Homo sapiens: one gene and its partner. The protein of the gene in region 1 interacts with the protein of each later gene in a pairwise test. Each region holds a gene or a part of one and is shown on either strand. Other genes may lie near its edges.

Region 1 (4,134 bases):
CCTTTCAGATCAGTGGCAGCGTTAGCTTCTCATTGGAGAGTGAACCTATTGTGAACTGCACATGCGAGTTCTAGGTCACGTGCTTCTTATGAGAATCTAATGCCTGATGATCTGTCACTGTCTCCCACCATCCTAAGATGGAACTCTCTAGATGCAGGAAAACAAGCTAAGGGCTCCCACTGATTCTACATTATGTTGAGTTGTGTAATTATTTAATTATATATTACAATGTAATAATAATAGAAATAAAGTACACAATAAATGTAATGCACTTGAATCATCGCAAAACCATCCCCCTCCACAGTCCATGGAAAAATTGTCTTCCACAAAACCAGTCCCTGGTGCCAAAAAGGACTGGGACCACTGCTTCATAGCATATGAAGTTGTATACCTGAGTATGAAATAAAATTTATAAATTATATTATTCAGATTATGCCTTTTATTGACCACTTAATTTTTTGCTGCTGTTGTTTGACATGTAAGCATCCTCTTACCCCATAGAACTTTACTGTGATGTGAATATTTTATCCTTTTCAGTTCTAATTAATCATTTTTACCTTGAATTCTGTGTTTGCAGTTAATATTACCATTGCTACTTAATTTTGTTTGTATTTCTTAGACATATATTTTCTCATCTCTTTATTTTCTATATTGTGAAGACTTTTTGTTTGAGGTGTTTTGTTTTGAACAATAATTTAGTGATGTTTTCTTTTGCCCCAATCTGATTATGTTTGTCTCTTTATAGAGAAATTTAACACATTCACATTTGTTGTGGTATTTGTATTTTATTTGGTCCCTATTGCTTTTTGCAGAGTGGGGGTGAGCTGGAGGGAAGTAAGGTTTTCTTTTTTTTCTTTTCTGTCTTGCTGTATTGATCAAATTTTCTTTATTTGTCTCCCTTCCTGCTAGAGATTGAGAAGTTCTACTGCTCAGTTTCCCCTACCCCCCAAAATCATACATGGGTGTATAATTTCTAAGGCAAAACTTTTAAAATTCACAGTTGCCACATAGGTGCCATAATTTAACTATGCTTAGAATGCTACAGTCTATGATCTTTTTCTCTCAGAGTTCTGTAAATGTTACCTCACAGTATTCTGACATTTAGGGTTGATGATAATCACATTCTCTTTCTTTGGAAGATAATTTTTTTTTTTTGACATAGAAACTCTAAAGGTTTTCTCTTTATTTTTGGAAATTTTTTTTCAATGCCCAACTCTTTGTCTTATATTTTCCCCTTAAGCTTTGGAAAAATTATTTGCAAATGTTCTCATTTACTAATTTTGATGTTTGAAAGATTCACGCCACTGTGCATTCCTTCAGTGCATAGTAGACTTTGCATTGAGTTTTTATTTGGGTAATCAACTTTTTCATTTCCATAGTTTCTTGTTTTCATATTTCTCCTTTTTTACAAAAGCCTGCTGTTTTATAATCAATGAAGTGTACCTTCCTAACTTTTTAACATCTTTGTTGGAGTATAATTGACATGTAATTAACTGTATATGTTTAAAATATACAGTTTGATACGTTTTGACATATGTATGAAACTGTGAACCATGGAACTATCACCACAGTCAAGATAATGAACATATGCGTCCCTTACCAAAGTTTCTTTATTCTCCTTTTTAATCATTCCTGCCTCTACTGTCTTCAGGAAACCATGGATCTGCTTTCTGTCACTATAAATTAGTTTGTATTTTGTAGACTTTTAAATAAGTAGAATTATACTATGCACTCTTTTTAAAAACATATTTCTAGGCCAGGTTCAGTGGCTCACGCCTGTAATCCCAGCACTTTGGGAGGCTGAGGTGGGAAGATTGCTTGAGGCCAGGAGCTGCAGACCAGCCTGGGCAACATGGTGAAATTCCATCTCTACAAAAAAATTTAAAAATTAGCCAGGCATGGTGGCCTGTGACTGTGATTCCAGCTACTCAGGAGGCTGAGGCAGGGGGATCTCATGAGCCCAGGACATAGAGGCTGCAGTGAGCCATATTCACACCACTGCACTCCAGCCTGGACAACAGAGCAAGACCCTGTCTCAAAAATTAAGGAAAGAAAGAATTTTTTAAATTAAATAAATAGAAATGGAAACATATAGCCAGGCATGATGGCTCATGCCTGTAGTCCCAGCTACTCAGGAGGTGAGGTGGGAGGATCACCTGAGACTAGGAAGTCAAGGTTGCAGTGAGCCAAGATCAAGCCACTGCACTCCAGTGTGGGCAACACAGTGAGACCCTGTCCTCAAAATAAATAAATTTAATAAAAACATTTCTAAATGAAAATTTCAAACATACAGAAAAATAGAGAAAAATATAATGAACTACAGTACATCTATTACTTAAATTTATAATATTTGTTGGCGGTTCATTTATTTAATTTTTTAAAATAAATTGACTTTATTTTTAAGTTTTTGTAAGTTTTTCTAATTAATAGACTTTATAAACTGATATGGTTTGGATTTGTGTCCTCACCCAAATCTCATGTCAAATTGTAATCCCCAGTGTTGGAGGAGGAGCCTGGTGGGAGGTGACTGGTTCATGGGGGCAGATATCCCCCTAGGTGTTCTCATGATAGTGAGTTCGTTCTCACGAGATCTGGCTGTTTAAAGTGTGTAGCACCTTCCACTTTAGTCTTCTACTCTGGCCATGTAAAACGTGACTCCTTCCTCTTTACCTTCCACCATGATTGTAAGTTTCCTGAGGTTTCCTCAGCCATGCTTCCTGTACAGCCTGCAGAACTGTAAGCCAATTAAGCTTCTTTTCATTGTAAATTACCCAGTTTCAGGTAGTTCCATGCAATAACAGACTAATACATAAACCTAAATAGTAGTTTTAGGTTTACAGAAAAATTGAGCCAATATTATAGAGAATTCTTATAGATGCCCTTTGCCCTGCATACATTTTCCCCATTATTAATATTTGCAATAGTGTGGTATATTTGATACAAGTAGGGAACCAATATTGATATGTTATTTTTGACTAAAGTCCATACTTTATATTAGGGTTCATCCTTTATGTCGCACAGTTCTATGGGTTTTAACTGTGTAATTTTTGTTTGTTTGACTTCTTTCACTTACTATAATCATTTCAAGATTCATTCATGTTTTTATGTGTATCACATGTTTGTTCCTTTTTATTCCACCTTTTGTTTATTCACATGTTTGTGGACATTTGAGTTGTTTCCAACTTGGAACAAATTCAGATAAAGCTGCTATGAACATTCATGTGTAAGCCTTTGTGTACACATAAGCTTTTGGGAAAATACCTAGAAGTGGAATGACTGGGTTATATGGTAAGAGTACGTTTAACTTTCTGAGAAATTGGAAAACTGTTTTTCCAAAATAGTCATACTGTTTTTTATTCCGACCAGCAGCGTATGAGTTCTGGTTGCTCCACATCTTTGTCAACATCTGGGATTGTCAGTCTTTAATTTTAGCCATTTAACAGGTGTGTGATATCTAATTTTTAAAATTTGCATTTCCCTAATAATTAATGGTGATGAACATATTTCTTATACTTATTGGCTATCTGAATATCATCAATGGTAGGTACCCATTTTCACATCTTTTGTCCATTTTTGTATTGGTTTGTTTTCCTATTACTCTGTTTTGAGAGTTCTTTATATATTCTGGATGTAAGTCCTTTATCAGATATAAGATTTAAAAATTGTTTTTTCTTTCTCTTAACATTGTCTTTCAAAGATCAGAAGCTTTTAATTTTGATAAGTTCAACTTACCAATTTTTTAATGGATCAAGCTTTTGGTATTTTATCTAATAACTCTTTGCGTGACCCAAGGACACAAAAATACTTTATGTTTTTTTCCAGAAATTTTATCTTTTTATGTTTTATTTACATTTAGGTTTGTGATTCATTTTGAGATAATTTTTGTATATGGAGTAAGATATAGATTCAGGTTTATGATTTTTGCATATGGATATCCATTTGTTCTCACACCATTTGTTGAAAAGAATATTCTTCCTCCATTGATTTATCTTTGCACCTTTATCAAAAATTAATTGACCAGGCTGGGCATGATGGCTCATGCCTGTAATCTCAGCACTTTGGGAAGCCAAGGATCACTTGAGGCCAGGAGTTCGAGACCAGCTAGGAGTTCGAGGCCTCTCTAGAGACAGGGAG
Region 2 (3,600 bases), on another chromosome or scaffold:
TTTGGACTGGAGTTTGCAGGTTATGAAGAAAAATAATCATTTCAATCACTTTCCAAGCATTGAAATCAAAGCACTTGATTATCCTCATTGCTTCTTGCTGAGAGAGGTAGGACTGTTGGCCGCATTTTGCAGAGGAAGAAACAGAGAGTGATTTGTTCAGGTCTACACAGCAAGTCAGTGATAAAACCAGAAAAAGAACTTGAGTCTTCCAAATCAATAGTTTTTACTGTCTTCAATTGGAAGGAGGACTCTTGTAGAAAAGCAGGCTTGAGAGAGAGAAAATCTAGATCAGATAAAGTTAAGCAGGAATCTTACTGTTCTTTTTAGCTTGGGGTTTTGGCATATTTAGTTTTTAAATATCTTCCTTTTCTGTGATAACTTTCTGACTTTTTTACATGGTTCCTTAGTCTCACCTCTTCTTGATTATCGGTTTCTTTATAGAAATACTTCCTTTCTTTCATTTAATTTCTCCTCTTTTGCATCAGTATTAAATACACATGAATTCTTCATTTCTTCAGTGCCACCTGTTATGAGTGTTTATTTCTGCATGCTTTTGTTAATGAGAATGTCCTTATTTTTAAACAGTCCCAGACCTCTTTTCTGCATCAGAGGGCATGCTGGTTCCATAAGTCCCAGTGGCTTTTTTCTTGGTTTGCTGCCATAACTTTACAGATAAATATTGGGTGTTCAAAGCAAATGCTCTTCAGAGAGAGAAAGGCTGGGAATAGAACTGTGCTGCTTATTCTATCCTGAAAACACGAAGCCTGGGGAAGTCATCTATATGGCCTTGACCACATTTCTGTAATTAATACCTACTTAGGTTTGCTTTTAAGGAATGGATAAAATGATTGTAATGATCGTCCTTTCAATCTTTTCCACCACAGAGATGCTAACAGGCCTTTCTTGGTTTTGCCTCCTTTAGGGGAATGTGACCCTGAAGGAGCTGAATGCTCGCCCCATGGAAGTGTTCATGTGCAGTGTGCTCAAGAGGCAAGGTTACGGCGAGGGTTTCCGCTGGCTCTCCCAGTATATTGACTGATGTTTGGACGGTGAAAATAAAAGAGTTTTACTTCTCTGGACTGATCCTATTCACAGCTTCCTCATGAACTTTTCTAATAGAACAAGGAAAGCTCTCCAACCATGTCTGGCGTTGAGAAGCCAAGAGTCTCTGTCAACTCTCTCATTGCCCAGTGGTGACATGTGCTCTTCTCCACACTGTTGGGAGGTAATGCTGCCCCACGTGCTGGTGCAGGTCAGTATCCTGGGACTTGGAAGCTGGCAGGATTTGCCGGGTAAAGCTGTATGCCATCATGGGGCACCTGAAAAGAAAAACACGTCTCACCACTGTGGTTGATTCAAAAGAAAGTGATTCTATTTTTTAAAGAAAGCGTTGTTAATGTAATTGGTATCCCTCCTAACTTTTTGAGTTCACAATTTACTTGGTCCAGAGTTTTCTATTCTTTTTTTTTTTTAAACTAATGAATGACATTTAGATACTTCATAAAATTATGAACAGATATGGAGGCCAGAGCTCATTTGGGTAAACTTACTCCTGCTGAGTTAGCAGGTTGGTGAGAGAAGCTCCCCTGAGCTCACCTGTCTCTCTGACTGCCTTGGAGTAGGTGGCATAACCTTGTGCACAGAGAACTAGAAAAGGGGCAGAACCCCGGCCTTGCAGTTGTGGCAGGTTTCCACTGTGGTAAGCTAGGTTCATTCCTCATCAAGGAATGTGTAGCAGATTGTTCACTGTGGAGGAGTTAATTATAGAATGGGTTATTGTTGTTATTCTTACTCATGAAGTTACAGATTTTAGCCAGTCTTTGCTTTTATACTTTTGTGAAATTTAATTTCTCTCTATAGCACCTTCCTTTTTCGTTTTCAGTTATCAAAAGTGACTTTGACCTCATAAAAGAGTTGAGAACATCTCTCGTGTCACATACTGCAGGTGCATCAGTTACTTTTGCACAGATTCTAGGGGGACATTTTTCTGAATAGGAAGACAGGACAAAGTTAACAGCTTAAGGGCTCTTAATTCTGTGAGTTGAGGACTTAAAAGTATTGTAGCATTTGTTTGGATCCATGAAAAATGTATTCAGTGGGCTTTAAAATTTCCATTTGCAGAATTTGGTCTCTCAGGCTGTTTGGGAGCTCTTTTTTTTACATTTTTTCTCCTTTGACACCTATTTTATTGGTGTTTAAAGTAAAGGTTAACATCTGTAGCTTTTCCAGGTTTTTTTTTTTTTTTTTTTTTTTTTGGTATGAAATTGTCTTTCTCCATTGCAGAAATAAGCTAGGGAAACACTAACCCAAAAACTTTCTGTAGAGCTGTTCCTTTGGAGGCAGCATCACTTATTGGCAGTAAAGACTCAGTATAAAAGCACCGGCATCCCTACTTGGGTGATGGGGATTAATTTTATAGCATTCCATTTTCCTAGTGCCACATGTGAAATTGGATTTTGATGATCTTAATCTATATTCTACCCTTATAATAAAAGATCAAAAGATATATCTCCTATGAACAGATTGGAGATAGGAGATGAAAAGTTGGGAGGATGTCTTTATTCTAATGTGAGGGTAGGGAAAATGTGGATAACATTACTGGGGTGAGGGAGGCATTGTTCTTTAGTTGGAGTTCTCATTCTTATTCTCCAGTACTGACTTGTGGGGAAAGCATACTTTTTCACTGCCAGGTACTGAATGCAGAGGCTCAGTGAAGTATATATGTGGGAAGTGCATGCATTTCGTTTATTAGCAAACATAGCTGGATTAAGACAAAGTTGTTGGTTTGGAAAGGGGTTAAAGCCTTAAGTGAACAAATCTAGCTAACAGTGAATGAACTAGGTAATATAACTTGCATATTTTTAATTTCCTTTGGTTAAAGGTCCCCCATACTTCTCTGTTCGGAGACATGAGAAGTATGATTACTTCAGTGTTAGTTTTCTTAATTTTTTTTTTCCCCTATTTGTCCCTTGTCACTTTGTTGCAAGCTAGAAATCTGTGGGTTATACATAGGGCAGCTCTTTGTGAAAGTGGTTTATTCCACTGGAGAAAGGGGATTGAAAATCAGTTAGAACCAATGTATTTCTTGCCCCACGGAACACTATTCCTATAAGATAGCTGAAAGAAGCTGCTGTGAGGAGCTCAGCTCCAAACACAGGATCAGCACCTTGTATAGGAATTCCCATGAATTATGACTTCTCATTCTGTTTTATCAGAGTGCATATATGTCCTACTTCAGGAAAAGTAAAACAGTCATTTACGAAAGAAAGTCAATCTGTATCCTAAGCATTTTAATAAAAAGTTAAAACAAATACGCTATTTCCTTTTTTTTTTTTCATTGGTTTGTTCTGAGCTCTGAGTTTGAACAATGCCGTTTATTTGGGGAGGCAACCAAAAGTTCCCTGCATAGAGGAAGAGACATTTAGGGTGCGTGTGAGATACTTGAATTTTGCCACCAGGAGGGGGAAAAAGGCTGGGGTACTAGAAGTAATAGATTTAGTACTACTTGAGAGATTTGGAACATGCTGTGGACCCAGGGTTGTTGGTCATCTCTGCAACAGGATGGGGATGGCAGATGTTTGAGCAAAATCTATATTAACA

What was found.
Region 2: the proteins of TMEM267 (region 1) and SAR1A interact in binary tests that used the Homo sapiens proteins (3 or more experiments, as listed by UniProt).

The regions. Positions count from the first base shown.
Region 1 is NC_000005.10:43,456,022-43,460,155, reverse strand, and holds part of TMEM267 (transmembrane protein 267), read left to right. Parts: intron 1-4,134.
Region 2 is NC_000010.11:70,149,915-70,153,514, reverse strand, and holds part of SAR1A (small COPII coat GTPase SAR1A), read left to right. Parts: intron 1-922; coding exon 923-1,039; 3' UTR 1,040-3,600. UniProt on the Homo sapiens protein: Small GTPase that cycles between an active GTP-bound and an inactive GDP-bound state and mainly functions in vesicle-mediated endoplasmic reticulum (ER) to Golgi transport.